5 linked regions of the Homo sapiens genome follow. The protein of the gene in region 1 purifies or fractionates together with the protein of each later gene. This does not show direct contact. Each region holds a gene or a part of one and is shown in the gene's direction. Other genes may lie near its edges. The genes, in order: ENPP4, THOP1, NUCB2, SLC29A2 and MANBA.

Region 1 (3,519 bases):
TAATCTCCCAGAAGCCATCGCGATTGTTATCGGTTCACTCTTGGTGTTAACCATGCTAACATGCCTCATAATAATCATGCAGAATAGACTTTCTGTACCTCGTCCATTTTCTCGACTTCAGCTACAAGAAGATGATGATGATCCTTTAATTGGGTGACATGTGCTAGGGCTTATACAAAGTGTCTTTGATTAATCACAAAACTAAGAATACATCCAAAGAATAGTGTTGTAACTATGAAAAAGAATACTTTGAAAGACAAAGAACTTAGACTAAGCATGTTAAAATTATTACTTTGTTTTCCTTGTGTTTTGTTTCGGTGCATTTGCTAATAAGATAACGCTGACCATAGTAAAATTGTTAGTAAATCATTAGGTAACATCTTGTGGTAGGAAATCATTAGGTAACATCAATCCTAACTAGAAATACTAAAAATGGCTTTTGAGAAAAATACTTCCTCTGCTTGTATTTTGCGATGAAGATGTGATACATCTTTAAATGAAAATATACCAAAATTTAGTAGGCATGTTTTTCTAATAAATTTATATATTTGTAAAGAAAACAACAGAAATCTTTATGCAATTTGTGAATTTTGTATATTAGGGAGGAAAAGCTTCCTATATTTTTATATTTACCTTTAATTAGTTTGTATCTCAAGTACCCTCTTGAGGTAGGAAATGCTCTGTGATGGTAAATAAAATTGGAGCAGACAGAAAAGATATAGCAAATGAAGAAATATTTTAAGGAAACCTATTTGAAAAAAAAAGCAAAGACCATTTGATAAAAGCCTGAGTTGTCACCATTATGTCTTAAGCTGTTAGTCTTAAAGATTATTGTTAAAAAATTCAGAAGAAAAGAGAGACAAGTGCTCTTCTCTCTATCTATGCTTAATGCCTTTATGTAAGTTACTTAGTTGTTTGCGTGTGCCTGTGCAAGTGTGTTTGTGTGTGGTTGTGTGGACATTATGTGATTTACTATATAAGGAGGTCAGAGATGGACTGTGGCCAGGCTTCCACATTCCTGAAGCACACAGATCTCAGGAAAGGTTATTTTTGCACTTCATATTTGTTTACTTTCTCCTAACTCACAAGTTAAAATCATAACTTAATTTCATTAACTTTTATCATTTAACTCTCTCATGTTTGTTGTAACCTGAGGTATCCAAATGCTACAGAAAAATTTATGACCCAAATACAAATCTCAATTTGACTGGGACAGAATGAGGAATGGAGATTTTTGTATTTATCTTTGGGACTTTATGCCTTACTTTTTAGGCTATAGAATAGTTAAGAAATTTTAAACAAAATTTAGTATCTTTTGGTCTTTCACACCATTCATATGTTAAGTGGCAGAATAGCCTTAGTGCTACCTCCACTTTTTTCTCCAGTATTTGCATCACAGAAATAATCCCTCTGTTTAACATGTTTGTTCAGAGCCAAGGGTTTATTGTGAAGAACTGTCATCCTGCCTTTGCTAGCTGGTACCTTCTAGTAATCAAAATTAATATGAAGAAACTAGGTTGTGACAGACTAGATTATATTTAGTAGGGGAAAAATTGGGCTCAAGAACCATTCATCAGTACGTGAGACAAGCAGTTAATAGTATGATCTTTAAAGTTTTGACAATATAAAATAAACTTGGTAACTGTTTTACAAATATAAAAGTATAATAAATATGCAGCCCAGTTAAATATTGATTATCTGTGATGGTAAAGAACAACAGTGGTGCCAGTCATCAAACATACAGTGCGTCCTATTGAGTCACTGCTAATTTCTTGAGCCTGGTATTTGCTGCCTATTGTATTTGTGGTTGTTGAGAGGCATTTTCAAACCCTGTATAAATAATCCATGCTGTTGGTCATAAGTTAACTGTATTAAGAACAGTAAAATAAATAAAAACCAATAGTACTAATTTTGCTTTAAAAAAATTTCTAATTTTTTTCACATAAAACAATTATCCTAAAGGTTAATAGTTGATCGAAACAGAATAATAGAAAAATTCTACTTTAATTTCCATTAAAAAGCAAATAGCATTGACACATTTAAAGCTTTTCATTTAAAGTAGTGGATGTTTTTGAAGTATCTAAAATAGTAGCAGAATATTTTATACTTGGTCCTTGCAATGGTGTGAGTTTTAATGATTGCATTATCGTGATTGGTGGTTATGAGTTTCAGAAATCTATACTTGGCATCCAACTCATGAGTGGATTTTATATAGGATGGAACAGGAAGGTATGTCCTGTCAGTATCTTAACCCTTTCAACAAGACATTTACCTATTTGTCTTTCCTTACGTTCTCAAAATATTAACTCGAATTGTAAATTAAGCAAAAATTTAAAAAGTATATGTTGATGGGACAAGAAGAATAGTATTTATTTAATAAAACATATATTATATTGAACTATGTGTTAATTCATTTGTATCTTTTAAAAAATTATCACTGTTAAAGCCATTGACTCCTTTAGTACACTGAGAAAAATCTTATAGTAAAACTAGCCTTTCACATTAAGGTTTTGGTGTGTATTTTGTTAAATAACTAACATGCTGCTCTATTTTCTGGGTGTAGAAAGTATTTGGCTCTAGGAAACATTTACTTGTTTGTGAAAACAATACCCCAAGGTAATAGGAAAAGTTTGAGTTAAGTGTTTTTAATTCAGTCAGTGAATTCAGAATAAGTACATTCATGTATAACATAGGGACAGTTCTGCTGCTGTTATTTATATGCAATTCTTCTGGTAAATAGCAATAGAATAAAACATATTTCAATGTTTGTGTATAGGTTTTATATTATTATTCCACTAGGAATGGCATAAGAATTTATAGATAAATTCTTGTAACATTAAAGGATTAAAATGTTTTTACATTGTTTTTGGGTGTCTCCTTCTTGTGCCCATATCTGATAAGCTTTATGGATTATTGCATTTAATTCCTTTTATTTGGAGGGTTTTACTTCCTTGTTAACATATAAAGTTATAAATGAAGGACAAGGAGGAGATGGAAAATGTGTATTTATTGTTAATTCTTAAAATAGTGTGTAAATAAAATAACATCAGTGTGCTTTAAAGAAATGTGTATGTAGTGCCTTAATTTAAATTAAAATATTTTTGACTGTTACTTGAGTTCAGAATTAATGACTTTGTTCATGATTTTTAAAATGTGTGTGAATAAAATCTACCAAAAAATTCTTACTGTAATTATTAAATATAAAGTTCAGTGTCACTGGTGATTTTTACATTTGTTACCTTCTTGCAAAATATACTTACTGTGCTAGATGTTGACATGACTTAGTAATATTATAGAAGCCCACATAGGTGTTTATTAGGATTTTTTAACTCTTTAACAAAAAGTTTAAAACAGTGTGTAAGTATACAATCCAGCATAAGAACATCATTGGAAAGAAAGCCAAGATAAGTTTTATAGAACCTCCAGAGCTATGATTTATTGGCTTATGGTAGAAGAGAAGAGGTTTGAAAAAAACCGATTATAAAATAGTGGGGATGGTAGGGGAAGCATTATAATGTT
Region 2 (3,421 bases), on another chromosome or scaffold:
GGGGCGCCGCAGTGCTGGCCTCTGGGGTTTTTGTGGATCTTAGTAGGCGAGTTTGAAAACACGGAGTCCAGGAATGAGGATCGACCGTGTGTCCACCTTTCCTGGCTTCCCTGCCACACTGTTTGCACAGCACTCGTAGCCAGCACACGCGTGTGCACATCCACACAGGTGCTCACACAGGTGCCCACGCACGTGCCTGCAGGCCTGCTTTGCATGCTGCTTTCTGCGTGTCCCTGGCGCCTGGCACGGCGAGTCCCTTGGTGCATTCCGTCGGGACAAGGAGTGTGGCTGCGTGGTCCTTGGAACAGAAAAGCCTCGGTGTTGCAGAGAGGACCTTGAGGATCACCCAGGAGTTCCCTCGCCGTTGGCTGCCTGCCATGGTTCCAGCGGGACTCAGTCAAGGGCTGTGCTTTTAGGGAAGGTTCCACACACACACGAGCAGGGAGATGCAGCATGCCTCACAGCGTCCCCACCCGGACCTGGCCGTCCCCAGGTCCCAACCCCTCGGGGTGCGGAGCTTTCAGGGAGCAGCAGCTCTGTGGCTAGAGGAGAAGCGTGGGTGGCCTCCAGGGACGGGGTCATGTGGCCGGCATCTTCAGGTGTGTCCTGCTGCCACCGGCAGCCAGCAGCAGCCCAGGGGCCTCCGGGTCCCGGTCGTTTTCCAGTTTTGGGGTGGGAGGGCCGGGCCCAGCGCATCACCTGTGCACTCGCCCTGTTTGCACTGTGGCAGCTGACACGGGCCAGGCCGGCGGGAACGGGCTAGGCAGGACCTGGGCACTCTGAGGCTCTGCCCCATCCCTGCAGGCGGAGTTCGCCATGTTCAGCGGGACCCACGTGGAGCGGGACTTTGTGGAGGCGCCGTCGCAGATGCTGGAGAACTGGGTGTGGGAGCAGGAGCCGCTGCTGCGGATGTCGCGGCACTACCGCACAGGCAGCGCCGTGCCCCGGGAGCTCCTGGAGAAGCTCATTGAGTCCCGGCAGGCCAACACAGGTGCACCCGCCCCGTCCGGGGAAGGGTGCTAACCTCGGGGGGCGGCACACAGCTGGGGCCTGGCATGTGCCCCGGGTGGGGGTCGGAGCTCTGGGCAGAGTGGGCCGGGGCAGGTGCAGAGGCCAGCTCTCTCCTTCCCTCCCGCCCAGGCCTCTTCAACCTGCGCCAGATCGTCCTCGCCAAGGTGGACCAGGCCCTGCACACGCAGACGGACGCAGACCCCGCCGAGGAGTATGCGCGGCTCTGCCAGGAGATCCTCGGGGTCCCGGCCACGCCAGGTAGCCACCCTTGAGCCGGGCACACCCTGGAATTTGGAGCCTCAGCTGCTTCCCTGGGAAGGTGAAGGGAGTTGGTCCCCATGCTTCACTTAGCAAGTGCAGGAGTCCCTGCTGGGGAGCCACGGAGCGCGTCCCAGGCTCCTCGGGGGACAGCCCCAGCTGAGATGCAGCTGCAGGCCCAGGGTCGGGGACGGGTGTGCGGCCCCAGCCCCCAGGAGGAGTGTGTTCCCTGGAGCCTCTGCTTTGAATGAAGCTGGCGTTTTCCTGATTGAAATGTATGACACATGCTTTGTAAAAAGCCTGGAGAAGTACAGGAAGGCCTAGGAATTTCCGATCCTAATGATGAGAAGTGGGCCCTGTTTCCATGCTCACCTGTTGTCCTGTGTGCATGTGTGTTCACACACGCTTGCGAGGATCCAGAATTTGGAAATACAGCATGATTTTAACATGGGTGGTGTTTTGCTGGCTTAACACTCCATAGACTTCAAAAATCTTTCCAAAAGCGTTTTCAGCAGCGTGGCCTGTGATGTTGCGTGGGCGTGCCTTGCTTTATTGACGCAGTCTCAAAATGGGGACTTTGCTCTGTGGCAGCTGACAGCCCCGTTAAATGAGCTCCTGTCCTTCCAGGAGAGGGGGCGGAGACTTGTGGCCCTCGCTTTGTGGCTGACTCTGGTTCTAGAAGTATCCAGCTGGTCTCGGCCCTCACCGTGATCCTCCAGCTTCTCCCTGTTCCGGGCAGGGGTCTCAGGAGTCTGGCTGGTTGTCTTCTCCTGGAGGAGGAGCATGGGGTGGGGGCTACAGCGTGAACCCTGCCATGTGTCCGCCCCAGGAACCAACATGCCTGCAACCTTCGGCCATCTGGCAGGTGGCTACGACGCCCAGTACTACGGGTACCTGTGGAGCGAGGTGTATTCCATGGACATGTTCCACACGCGCTTCAAGCAGGAGGGTGTCCTGAACAGCAAGGTACGCGGGGACTGGGGACAGGGAGGGCGTCCTGAACGGCAAGGTACGCGGGGACTGGGGACAGGGAGGGCGTCCTGAATGGCAAGGTACGCGGGGACTGGGGACAGGGAGGGCGTCCTGAACGGCAAGGTACGCGGGGACTGGGGACAGGGAGGGCGTCCTCAACAGCAGGGTGGGGCCGAGAAAAGCACACCTTTGGCCTGGGCCTGGGTGTGCCGGGTGAGCCATCCCGGCCGAGGCACCTGCTGGTCTTGGTGCGGTGCTGCCCACAGCTCCTCCCTGGGCCCTGCAGGAAGCTCCACACTGGCCCCTCAGGCCTCGGGCTGTGAGTGCTGGGAGCTCCGTGTCTTCCCATACGAGTCCTTCCGGGATCTGCGTGATCGGCCTCAGAGCCATGGGCTGAGACAGACCCTTCTCTGGAGAAGGCTTGGCGTTTGCCATTCATTTGCTCCTCCAACCTCCAGTTTCCTCACTATGAAGTGCGGCCGTTACGCCATGTGAGCCTGTGCCTCCCGCTGACTTGGTGTGACCCAGGCTCGGGACAGCCGCCAGAGTCCCTCACAAGGAACAGGTGGCTACCAGCTTTGAGGGCCGGCCCTGCCCTGCCTGGGTGCAACATTGCACTGGGCAGCCTGCAGGTACCTCGGAGCCACCAAGCAGGCACTCAGCTGCTCCCTTTATAGAGGTGCAGAGGCCAGGACCTGGGGGAGCAATGGTCCGACAAGCCCCCTGTCTTCACAGCCCAGCAGGGACCTCCCCCCTCCTGAGGCAGCCTCCAGCAGCTCCCCCTGCTGCTGAGGTGAGGGGGTCCCACCTCTGAGGACCGGCCGGGGGCTGTAGAGGTGGAGTCCCCCGGGTGGGAGCTGGGACTGTGGCTCCCTGGCTCTGCAGCCTGCAGTCCGCGCAGGCTCCTGCGGGGCTCTGGGGCGTCGGGGTCTCCTTGGTGGCTGGCACCGGCGCCTCGCAGTCTCATCTGCCTCACCTGCCCGTAGTCCCGCAGTCACAGGGCTGGGCTCAAACCTGGGCCTTTAGGGCGGCCCAGAGCGCGAGCGGCTTCCACATTGTCCAGCCGGAGGCTCAGCCACTTCTGTTCATGGGCTCAGCCTGGGATTTCAGTGGGGGCTGATGGCGGGAGCCACCTCGGGAGTTTGGGGAGTTCGGGGCTCTGCTGGCCCCTCAGTGCACA
Region 3 (3,519 bases), on another chromosome or scaffold:
TAACCATCACTGTCATGTTCCAGGCAGCAAAGCATAGGCGAAGAAAGATGCATCCTCTTCCTTTAAGGAGAATTCCTGAACCAAGGCTGAGGCTATAAGAAAGCAGGGAAATGTAGCTGACTGCATGTCTGCCCTCTATAAAATTGGGCTTTTGTTACTGAGAAGGAAGGAAAGATTTGGATATTGGCAAGCAAATAGAAGTGTCTGCCATGATATGAATCTTTTTATCTTTCAGCTCTGAAATCTGTAAGCTGTGATAACCACTCATAGAAGCTTCTATAATTTGCCATGGCAGAGATATAAGTCTGACTATTAACTACAGAAGGAAATAATCTTCATGTAATAAATTGTGTTTCTGTTTTTACTTTTAGCCCTTAATTCATTATAGAAGCTTTTCTGTCTTATTTGTGGATTTGTTCTGGTTATTTTTTAAAATTACCCATAAATGCTCAATAGATGTTTGTTGTACATTTTATGGTTGTGTTAAAAAGAGCTAACATTTATTGAGCTACTTGCTATAATCAAGGCACTAAAATGACAGAGATAAGTTATCCCAAGGGTATCACATAACTAATCATCAGGAAGTAAATTTATATTGAAAGTAAATATAATTCATCTCAAGATACATTTCACTATGGTCACATGAGGAACACTTGCCTTCCTTGCTAGCTAAAAGTAGTTTGTTCTTTTTCTTTCCTTTCTTCTTTTTTTAACCACTTAACTGTTAGTTGTCTTGAAATTTTCTCTTACTACTAGTTCTTGCTTAACTTATTTAGCCACACCAATATTTTATTTCCTTCCAGACTTTTATTTTTTTTGTTGAGACGGAGTCTCACTCTTTCACCCACGCTGGAGTGCAATGGCTTAGTGCAACCTCTGCCTCCTATGTTCAAGCGATTCTCCTGCCTCAGCCTCCTCAGTAGCTGGGACTACAGGCATCCACCACCACACCCAACTAATTTTTGTATTTTTAGTAGAGATGGGGTCTCACCATGTTGGCCAGGGTGGTCTTGAACTCCTGACCTCAGGTGATCTGCCTGCCTCAGCCCCCTACAGTGATGGGATTACAGGAGTGAGCCACCGTGCCCAGCCCCTTCCAGACTTTTCTTTGTGAATATTATATAAATATACCCTATACTTGTCCTGCAAAATGGTTCAATTGTCATTATTTCTATTTCAAAAGTAAACTGAAATAAATAGCTTTGAGAAAAAGAAATTCAGGGAATGGAAATTGGAGTGAGAAAGATTCTAAAGATTCAGTCAATCTTTTAGAGTTTTTAGAAGGGAGACAGTAAGTTAAGATTTTATTTCTACACAGTATATTTGTATTTTTGAAAGTTTTTACATTTTTTGGTTGTATTAGATAGGCACAAAGTACAGTAGTTCTTTTGCTGCTAGTATTGCAGTTTCCTTTTTTCTGATCTAGACTTGTTGACCTCAAACAAAATAATCAGGAGACTTGTGACCATAAAAACAACCCAGTTTTTAAGAGACATTTAACGTTATAAATCACCTGACTGAGAATGTCTGTTTGGTGAATACCATTTTCATGACTTTTAATTTTTTTTAATTAACAGAAAAGTATCATGCTATGCATTGTTTTGTAAGCAGCATTTTAAAAATTGCAATTGTATTTAATAGCTTACCTTCCTCACTAGATTGAAGCCCTGTGAGGGTAAGGACTATGTCGATCTCGCTTACCTTTGTCTTCTAGCATAGTATCTGGTACCATAGTCATTACTTAATACATAAATATTAGTTTAGTTTTGTTTTTAGAAACAAAGTCTCAATACATACATACATACATACATACATACTTATAATAGGTTAAAGGAAACATGCTTCAATTCAGCCATTAATTGAAAAGGAAGAGGGGCAAAAGAAGAGGGTTGAGGAAGATGGAAAAAGATACATAAAAGAGGCTGGGCGCGGTGGCTCATGCCTGTAATCCCAGCACTTTGGGAGGCCAAGGCGGGCAGATCACAAGGTCAGGAGATCAAGACCATCCTGGCTAACATGGTGAAACCCCGTCTCTACTAAAAACATACAAAAAAATTAGCCGGGCGTGGCTGGGTGAGGTGGCTCACGCCTATAATCCCAGCACTTTGGGAGGCCGAGGCGGGCGGATCACGAGGTCAAGAGATCGAGACCAGCCTGGACAACATGGTGAAACCCTGTCTTTACTAAAAAAAACACAAAAAATTAGCCAGGCATGGTGGCATGCGCCTGTAGTCCCAGCTACTTAGGAGGCTGAGGCAGGAGAATTGCTTAAACCCAGGAGGCGGAGGTTGCAGTGAGCTGAGATTGCACTACTGCACTCCAGCCTGTGCAACAGAGCGAGACACTGTCTCAAAAAAAAAAAAAAAAAATTAGCTGGGCGTGGTGGCGGGCACCTGTAGTCCCAGCTACTCAGGAGGCTGAGGCAGGAGAATGGTGTGAACCCGGGAGGCGGAGTTTGCAGTGAGCCAAGATCGCGCCACTGCACTCCAGCCTGGGTGACAGAGTGAGACTCCGTCTCAAAAAAAAAAAAAAAAAAAAAAAGATATATAAAGGAGGAACAGAGACTACTTCCAAGGAAAGAGAAAATTTTCAGTTTTCTGTACTTTTCACCCTGGTTATCTATGGTAATTTTTTTTAACCACTTCCAGGATATCTTGCCCAACAATCAAAACAGGAAACCATCACACATACATGCGCGCACGTGTGCGTACACACACACACACACACACACACACACACACAAAGCAAACTTAATCTGTATAACTATGGGTATAAATCAGTAGCTAAGAAATCTGCCTCTGTGTATGAATGGAAATTTTATTTTTTGAGACATGTTCTCACTCTGTCACCCTGGCTAGAGTGCTGTGGCGTGACCATGGCTCACTGCAGCCTCAACCTGCTGGGCTCAGGTGATCTTCCCACCTCATCCCCCACCAAGTAGCTGGGACTACAGGCATGTGCCACCATGCCCAACTAATTTTTGTATTTTTTGTAGAGACAGAGGTTTCACCATATTGCTCAGGCTGGTCTTGAACTCCTGGGCTCAAGGAATCCACCCTCCTTGTCCTCACAAAGTGCTGGGATTATAGGCAGGAACCTCCGTGCCCAGCAGAATAGAAATTTTGACTTGGTTGAGACAGGGGAAGAGAGATTAGCTTTCTTTTAGGACTTTAAAATTTAAGGAAATTATATCTACTGAATACTAAGAGAAGCTTAAGAACTCTGCTTACTTTGTAATTTTACCAGAGGCTCTGATGCCTTTGGGGTCAGTGCCTCCCATTCTGTCTTGAGATGACTACATAATTTAGAATTTCACACCATCCTACTTTAGAGAGTAAATTATCAGCCTGTCCTGGTTTGGATGAGTCTACTGTTTCAGCCTGGTTCAGCCCAGTGTCTCCTCTTTAGGTCCGTATCTCTCTTATGAAAGAAGAGGGTGATAAAGGAAAGGAGAAGGCCATTCTTACTGACCTGATAGTGGAAGAAAAGTAGGTTAGTTCTCCTTCTTCCTATTGCCTG
Region 4 (3,389 bases), on another chromosome or scaffold:
CTGGGAGAGGCAGAGGTGAGCCCCAGGCCAGTCCCTGATTTCTGGGTGGACTTGGCCCAGGCCCCAGTGCTGGGTCCTCCCTCACTGGCTCACAAGGTAGGTCAGGTCAGAGGAGGTCAGGGGGTGACAGATGGGTCTATCCTATGGGTGGGCCAGGCGTGGTGGCTCACACCTATAATCCTAGCACTCTGGGGCTGGACGCGGTGGCTCACACCTGTAATCCCAGCACTCTGGGAGGCCGAGGCGGGTGGATCACGAGGTCAGGAGTTCGAGACCAGCCTGGCCAACATGGTGAAACCCCGTCTCTACTAAAAAGATAACAATTAGCAGGTGTGGTGGTGCACACCTGTAATCCCAGGGAGGCAGAGGCTGCAGTGAGCCGAGATCGCACCACTGCTCTCCAGCCTGGGAGACAGAGCGAGACTCTGTCTCAAAAACAAACAAACAAAAAAACCCCTAAAATCCGAGCACTTTGGGAGGCCAAGGCAAGAGGATCGCTTGAGCTCAGGAGTTCAAAACCAGCCTGGGCAACACAGTGAGACTTTGTCTGTACACACACACACACACAAATTTTTAATGAAAAAAATAGAGGCCGGGTATGGTGGCTCACGCCTGTAATCCCAGCACTTTGGGAGGCTGAGGCAGGTGGAACACTCGAGGTCAGAAGTTCGAGACCAGCCTGGCCAACATGATGAAACCTGGCTCTACTAAAAATATAAAAATTATCTGGGCATGGTGGTGGCAGGCGCCTATAGTCCCAGCTACTCAGGAGGCTGAAGCAGGAGGATTTCTTGAACCCAGGAGGTGGAGGTTGCAGTGAGCTGAGATCAGGGCCACTGCACTCCAGCCTGGGCAACAGAGCGAGACTCCATCTAAAAAAAAAAAAAAAAAAAGTACTCTATGGGTGTCCTGAGATGCCCTGGAGCAGAGACCTGGCTCCAGGGACCATGCTGACTTCAGCTTCTACCACAGCCAGACGAGGACAGCCGGCTGCTGCCCCTGCTGGTCTGCCTGCGGTTCCTGTTCGTGCCCCTCTTCATGCTGTGCCACGTGCCCCAGAGGTCCCGGCTGCCCATCCTCTTCCCACAGGATGCCTACTTCATCACCTTCATGCTGCTCTTTGCCGTTTCTAATGGCTACCTGGTGTCCCTCACCATGTGCCTGGCGCCCAGGTCCGGGGCAATGGGGTGGGGTGGGGGGCTGGGAGTAGGGAGGTGGGTTCAGTCTTTGGGAAGGGACCGCCTGCAATGGAGGGACGGCCCATCCTGCTTCTGGCCAGCCCAACCCTAGCTGTCTGCAGGCCTTGCTGGCGCCCCCTACTGGGCCAAGCCTTAACTGCAGGGGAGAGAACTGGGCTAGGGAGGTACCCGCCCAACCAAGTAGCCCAGGCACTGGTTCTGGGGCCGCCTCAATGTGCCTCAGTTTCCCCATCTGTAAAAAAAAATGGGTTGAACTGTCATCCCTCAGGGCCCATCTAACTGTAAAATTCTCAGTTGAAGGAGAGCTAAGGTTTTGACCAAAAACAAGGTCATGGGCTATTTCCTCAAGGGGCAATGGAGTGGAGAATCCAGAGAGAATGAAGCTGGCAGGGCAGACAGGCTGAGAGCACTGTGGAAAGGGCAGGCTGTGGAATCTGGAATCCCATCATGTTAGACTCAGAGGCCCTGAGAGACATCCTTATCCAGCAGCCTCATTTACAGACCAGGAAACTGAGGCCCGGAAAGAAGGGGCCAGTTATGGTGACAGAGGGGTTGGGTCAGAGCCCAGACTGGATGGGCAGAGGGCAGTGGAGCTGGGTCCAGATTTAGACCCAGCATTTTCTAAGAGCTCCTGTTCCCGGGTGTTCTAGGCAGGTGCTGCCACACGAGAGGGAGGTGGCCGGCGCCCTCATGACCTTCTTCCTGGCCCTGGGACTTTCCTGTGGAGCCTCCCTCTCCTTCCTCTTCAAGGCGCTGCTCTGAAGTGGCCCCTCCAGGCTCTTTGGCAGCCTCTTCTCGACGTCTCCTTCCGGAGCTGAGATCCAGCCCAGGGCGAATGGCGAGCTTGGCTCAGGCCTCTGCGGGGTGGAGGCCCCTGGGCCTGAGGCTGCCAGCAGCGGGCAGGAGCTGCTCTTCATCCACTTGGAGTGCTGTGGGGAAGAAATCACCACCGGTCATTCTAACCCTCACCCAGGAATGGGGGTGACTCGCACAAGACCTCATGGAAAGGGTGATGACTAGGGAAAAGAGGGTGCAGGGCACGGCTGCTCCCCACCACCAGGTCTGCATTTGTTCATCATCATCAGGAGCAGAGGTGACCAGAGGGTTCAGAGTGGGAGGCGGGGCCAGCCCAGGCCAGGAGCGCCTCATCTTCCCAGGCCTCAGCCACCCAGGGTAAAAGGTGCCAGGGAAGTTGTGGGCACCTGAGAGGAGGAACAGATGTGGAGGACCTGAGGGTGCTCAAAGGGCCAGGCTCAGCCTCAAGCAGTGTTTTCATTGCCAACACTTACTGTACCCACTCCGCAGAGCCCAGCTGGGCCTGGGCCCCAGGGCCACAGCTAGCCTGCATGTGTGTACTGCACTTTACAGTTTGCAAAGCTCTTCCATACCCACTCTCTCACCGAAGCCTAATTGAGGCTCTTGGAAGGAGTCAGGCAAGGATTGTGCTTCCCCCATTATACAGGTGACAAAACTGAGTCCTGGGGAAAGTGACTGGTCCGTGGTAGAGCCGGGACCCAATCCCCTCTCTCTCCTCCCTGTTGGTGCTGTTCTTCCTGCCCAACACCTGTTTCTCTTTTCCTCAAGGGGTTTGGGGCAGGAGCCTGGGCACTTACTCCCCGTTTTTGCTGTTTCTCCTTCTGACCCTGCTCTTGGGTCTAATAACCCCATTTATTTGTATGATGCGTTCACCAAGTCTTTATTTCCGAAGTGCTGTTGGCTCTATTGGCCTCAGTGAACTGGGTGGGGTCGGAAAGATTGTACCCCCTTGACAGGTGGGATGACTGAGGCCCTGAGAGGGGTAGGGATTGGTGGGCATCTCTGTGCTGGGTCCTCTGGACCACATGATAGCTGGGGGGTACTGACCTGCAAGGAATCCTGAGCTCCTGGGCAGAGCACCTAGTTGGATGGACAACTATTGCTCTCCCACTCCATGAGCCCCTGGGCTCTCACCAGCATCCTCTGCCTCCCCAGGATAGCTCCTCCTTGGAAATCTGGCCTTAGAGAGGCAGTCAGTGTGGGCAGGGCTTTGGCGACCCCACCAATTCTACACACGGATGGAGGAAAGGCCTGCTTCACCACACACCTATACTACCCTGCCCGTCCCAGAGAAAAGCAAGGGTTTTCTGCCCACCTGCCTTTGTGAACATTCACTGAGCACCTATTAGATATTAGGTGCTCAGCCAGCACAGG
Region 5 (3,519 bases), on another chromosome or scaffold:
CCTGAGGCAGGCACGAGCTTGACAAGTTTCAGGAATAGTCAGCAGGCCAGTGTGGCTGGAGACCTGGGAACCAGAGGGTAGGAGAGGAGTTCAAAGTCTAGGGCACATCATGAAAGGCTGTGAGCCATAGGAAACACTTTGGCTTTTATTCTACATGTGATGGGAAGTTATTGGAGGCTTTGAGCTTAGAGTAGCATGATTAGATTTGCCTTTTTAAAGGTCACTCTGTTGTGTGAAGGCTACAGTGCAGGAGAGTGGAAGCCTGGAGACCAACCAGGGGACTATTGCTGGTCTATGTATGGGCAAGAGATGACTTCTGGCTTGGACAAGCATGGTGGCAGTGAAATGGTGAGAATGGTTGTGAGAACACGTTTTACATGTAGAAACAAGAGGATTTCTTCAGTTGGATTTGTTAATGGATTGGGAGACAGAAGGGGGAGGTGCAGGAAAATACCAGGATTTTTTTTATCTGAGCTGGTTAAATGAAATTTGTATTTAGTGAGAGATTCTGTGGCTAGTCTTGGCTATTTCCTAGGTGATTCTCTGGGTTTTCTGTACAGAATCTAAACCTTTGGTTTCTTAGAGAGTCTTTTGGGTTCTCTGTGAAAAGTTATTCCTTCAGCCTGCTATTTTTTTTTTTTTGAGACGGAGTTTCGCTCTTGTTGCCCAGGCTGGAATGCAATGGTACTATCTCGGCTCACCGCAACCTCTGCCTCCTGGGTTCAAGAGATTCTCCTGCCTCAGTCTCCCAGGTAGCTGGGATTACAGGCATGTGCCACCATGCCTGGCTAATTTTGTACTTTTAGTAGAGACAAGCTTTCTCCATGTTGGTCAGGCTGGTCTTGAACTCCCAACCTCAGGCCATCCACCTGCCTCGGCCTTCCAAAGTGCTGGAATTACAGGCATGAGCCACCGTGCCTGGCCCTCAGCCTGCTATTATGCCACACAGTGTAATAGGCATTAGGAATAAAAAAAGAAATTGAGAGTGAGACTATAGTTCCTATTTTGTGGGAGGCCACTTTAGTGAGGCAGAAAACTAAATAATTTCCATATGTTATGTTAAGTGCATACATAAAGGGACCCTTGTTAGGAATGTTCTCAGCTTTTCTGTGGAATTTCTCACTGGTGTAAGTTTTGAAGCAACTGCTTCTTTTTTTTTTTTTTTTTTTTTTTTAGATAGTCTCTGTATGCCAACATTAAAATATATAGATAAGTAAGAAGAAGGTTGGAAACATCACTCCCAGAGATAACCACTATTTTTTTTGACAGCTGTTCATGTGACTAATGCCCCCAACAGTTTTATATATTTATTTATTTTTATTTTTTATTTTTTCCCTTTTTTTGTTATACTTTAAGTTCTAGGGTACATGTGCACAACGTGCAGGTTTGTTACATATGTATACATGTGCCATGTTGGTGTGCTGCACCCGTTGACCCGTTAACCTCATTTACATTAGGTATATCTCCTAATGCTATCCCTCCCCCAGCCCCCAACCTCATGACAGGTCCCAGTGTGTGATGTTCCCCATCCTGTGCCCAAGTGTTCTCATTGTTCAATTCCCACTATGAATGAGAGCATGTGGTGTTTGGTTTTCTGTCCTTGTGATAGTTTGCTCAGAATGATGGTTTGCAGCTTCATCCATGTCCCTACAAAGGACATGAACTCATCCTTTTTTATGGCTGCAAGGTATTCCATGGTGTATATGTGCCACATTTTCTTAATCCAGTCTATCATTGTTGGACATTTGGGTTGGTTACAAGTCTTTGCTATTGTGAATAGTGCTGCAGTAAACATACATGTGCATGTGTCTTTATAGTAGCATGATTTATAATACTTTGGGTATATACCCAGTGATGGGATGGCTGGGTCAAATGGTATTTCTAGTTCTAAATCCTTGAGGAATTGCCACACTGTCTTCCACAATGGTTGAAATAGTTTATAGTCCCACCAACAGTGTAAAAGTGTTCCTATTTCTCCACATCCTCTCCAGCACCTGTTGTTTACTGACTTTTTAATGATCACCATTCTAACTGGTGTGAGATGGTATCTCATTGTGGTTTTGATTTGCATTTCTCTGATGGCCAGTGATGATGAGCATTTTTTCATGTGTCTTTTGGCTGCATAAATGTCTTCTTTTGAGAAGTGTCTGTTCATATCCTTTGCCCACTTTTTGATGGGGTTGTTTGATTTTTTCTTGTAAATTTGTTGAAGTTCTTTGTAGATTGTGGATTAATTAGCCCTTTGTCAGATGGATAGATTGTAAAAATTTTCTCCTATTCTGTAGGTTGCCTGTTCACTCTGATGGTAGTTTCTTTTGCTGTGCAGAAGCTCTCTAGTTTAATTAGATCCCATTTGTCAAGTTTGGCTTTTGTTGCCATTGCTTTTGGTGTTTTAGTCATGAAGTCCTTGCCCATGCCTATGTCCTGAATGGTATTGCCTAGGTTTTCTTCTAGGGTTTTTATGGTTTTAGGTCTAACATTTAAGTCTTTAATCCATCTTGAATTAATTTTTGTATAAGGTATAAGGAAGGAATCCAGTTTCAGCTTTCTACATTTGGCTAGCCAGTTTTCCCAGCACCATTTATTAAATAGGGAATCCTTTCCCTATTTCTTGTTTTTGTCAGCTTTGTCAAAGATCAGATGGTTGTAGATGTGTGGTATTATTTCTGAGGGCTCTGTTCTGTTCCATTGGTCTATATCTCTATTTTGGTACCAGTACCATGCTGTTTTGGTTACTGTAGCCTTGTAGTATAGTTTGAAGTCAGGTAACGTGATGCCTCCAGCTTTGTTCTTTTGGCTTAGGAGTGTCTTGGCAATGTGGGCTTTTTTTGGGTTCCATATGAACTTTAAAGTAGTTTTTTCCAATTCTGTGAAGAAAGTCATTGGTAGCTTGATGGGGATGGCGTTGAATCTATAAATCACCTTGGGCAGTATGGCCATTTTCATGATATTAATTCTTCCTATCCATGAGCATGGAATGTTCTTGCATTTGTTTGTGTTCTCTTTTATTTCATTGAGCAGGATAACCACTATTAAAGTAAAAATTCAGTGCATCCATTCTAATTTTTTTAATGCATACACTTTTATAAGTATTAAATATACAGCTTAACAACTCTTGGGCAGGCACAGTGGCTCACGCCTGTAATTCCAGCACTTTGGGAGGCCAAGGCGGCAGATCACGAGGTCGGGAGATCGAGACCATCCTGGCTAATACGGTGAAACCCCGTCTCTACTAAAAATACAAAAAATTAGTCCGGCGTGGTGGCCAGCACCTGTAGTCCCAGCTACTCGGGAGGCTGAGGCAGAAGAATGGCATGAACCCGGGAGGTGGAGCTTGCAATGAGCCAAGATCACGCCACTGCACTCCAGCCTGGGTGACAGAGCAAGACTACATCTCAAAAAAAAAAATAAATAAATAAAATAAAATAAATAACAACTCTTTCACATTTAATGTATTGTGATGCTCTTACCTGCATTAAACAGGTTTCTATAAACCATGTTTAGTGGCTTTTTAAAAAT

The links.
Region 2: the proteins of ENPP4 (region 1) and THOP1 fractionate together in Homo sapiens (co-fractionation; one large-scale study listed by BioGRID). This does not show direct contact.
Region 3: the proteins of ENPP4 (region 1) and NUCB2 fractionate together in Homo sapiens (co-fractionation; one large-scale study listed by BioGRID). This does not show direct contact.
Region 4: the proteins of ENPP4 (region 1) and SLC29A2 fractionate together in Homo sapiens (co-fractionation; one large-scale study listed by BioGRID). This does not show direct contact.
Region 5: the proteins of ENPP4 (region 1) and MANBA fractionate together in Homo sapiens (co-fractionation; one large-scale study listed by BioGRID). This does not show direct contact.

Annotation. Positions count from the first base shown.
Region 1 is NC_000006.12:46,143,484-46,147,002, forward strand, and holds the end of ENPP4 (bis(5'-adenosyl)-triphosphatase ENPP4 precursor), read left to right. Parts: coding exon 1-157; 3' UTR 158-3,205; downstream 3,206-3,519. UniProt on the Homo sapiens protein: Hydrolyzes extracellular Ap3A into AMP and ADP, and Ap4A into AMP and ATP. Ap3A and Ap4A are diadenosine polyphosphates thought to induce proliferation of vascular smooth muscle cells.
Region 2 is NC_000019.10:2,809,500-2,812,920, forward strand, and holds part of THOP1 (thimet oligopeptidase), read left to right. Parts: intron 1-804; coding exon 805-991; intron 992-1,140; coding exon 1,141-1,269; intron 1,270-2,098; coding exon 2,099-2,235; intron 2,236-3,421. UniProt on the Homo sapiens protein: Involved in the metabolism of neuropeptides under 20 amino acid residues long. Involved in cytoplasmic peptide degradation. Able to degrade the amyloid-beta precursor protein and generate amyloidogenic fragments.
Region 3 is NC_000011.10:17,283,226-17,286,744, forward strand, and holds part of NUCB2 (nucleobindin-2 isoform 1 preproprotein), read left to right. Parts: intron 1-3,408; exon of another isoform or gene 3,409-3,492; intron 3,493-3,519. UniProt on the Homo sapiens protein: Calcium-binding protein which may have a role in calcium homeostasis. Acts as a non-receptor guanine nucleotide exchange factor which binds to and activates guanine nucleotide-binding protein (G-protein) alpha subunit GNAI3.
Region 4 is NC_000011.10:66,362,008-66,365,396, reverse strand, and holds the end of SLC29A2 (equilibrative nucleoside transporter 2), read left to right. Parts: intron 1-972; coding exon 973-1,172; exon of another isoform or gene 1,173-1,849; coding exon 1,850-1,961; 3' UTR 1,962-2,876; downstream 2,877-3,389. UniProt on the Homo sapiens protein: Bidirectional uniporter involved in the facilitative transport of nucleosides and nucleobases, and contributes to maintaining their cellular homeostasis. Functions as a Na(+)-independent, passive transporter.
Region 5 is NC_000004.12:102,754,453-102,757,971, reverse strand, and holds part of MANBA (beta-mannosidase precursor), read left to right. Parts: intron 1-3,519.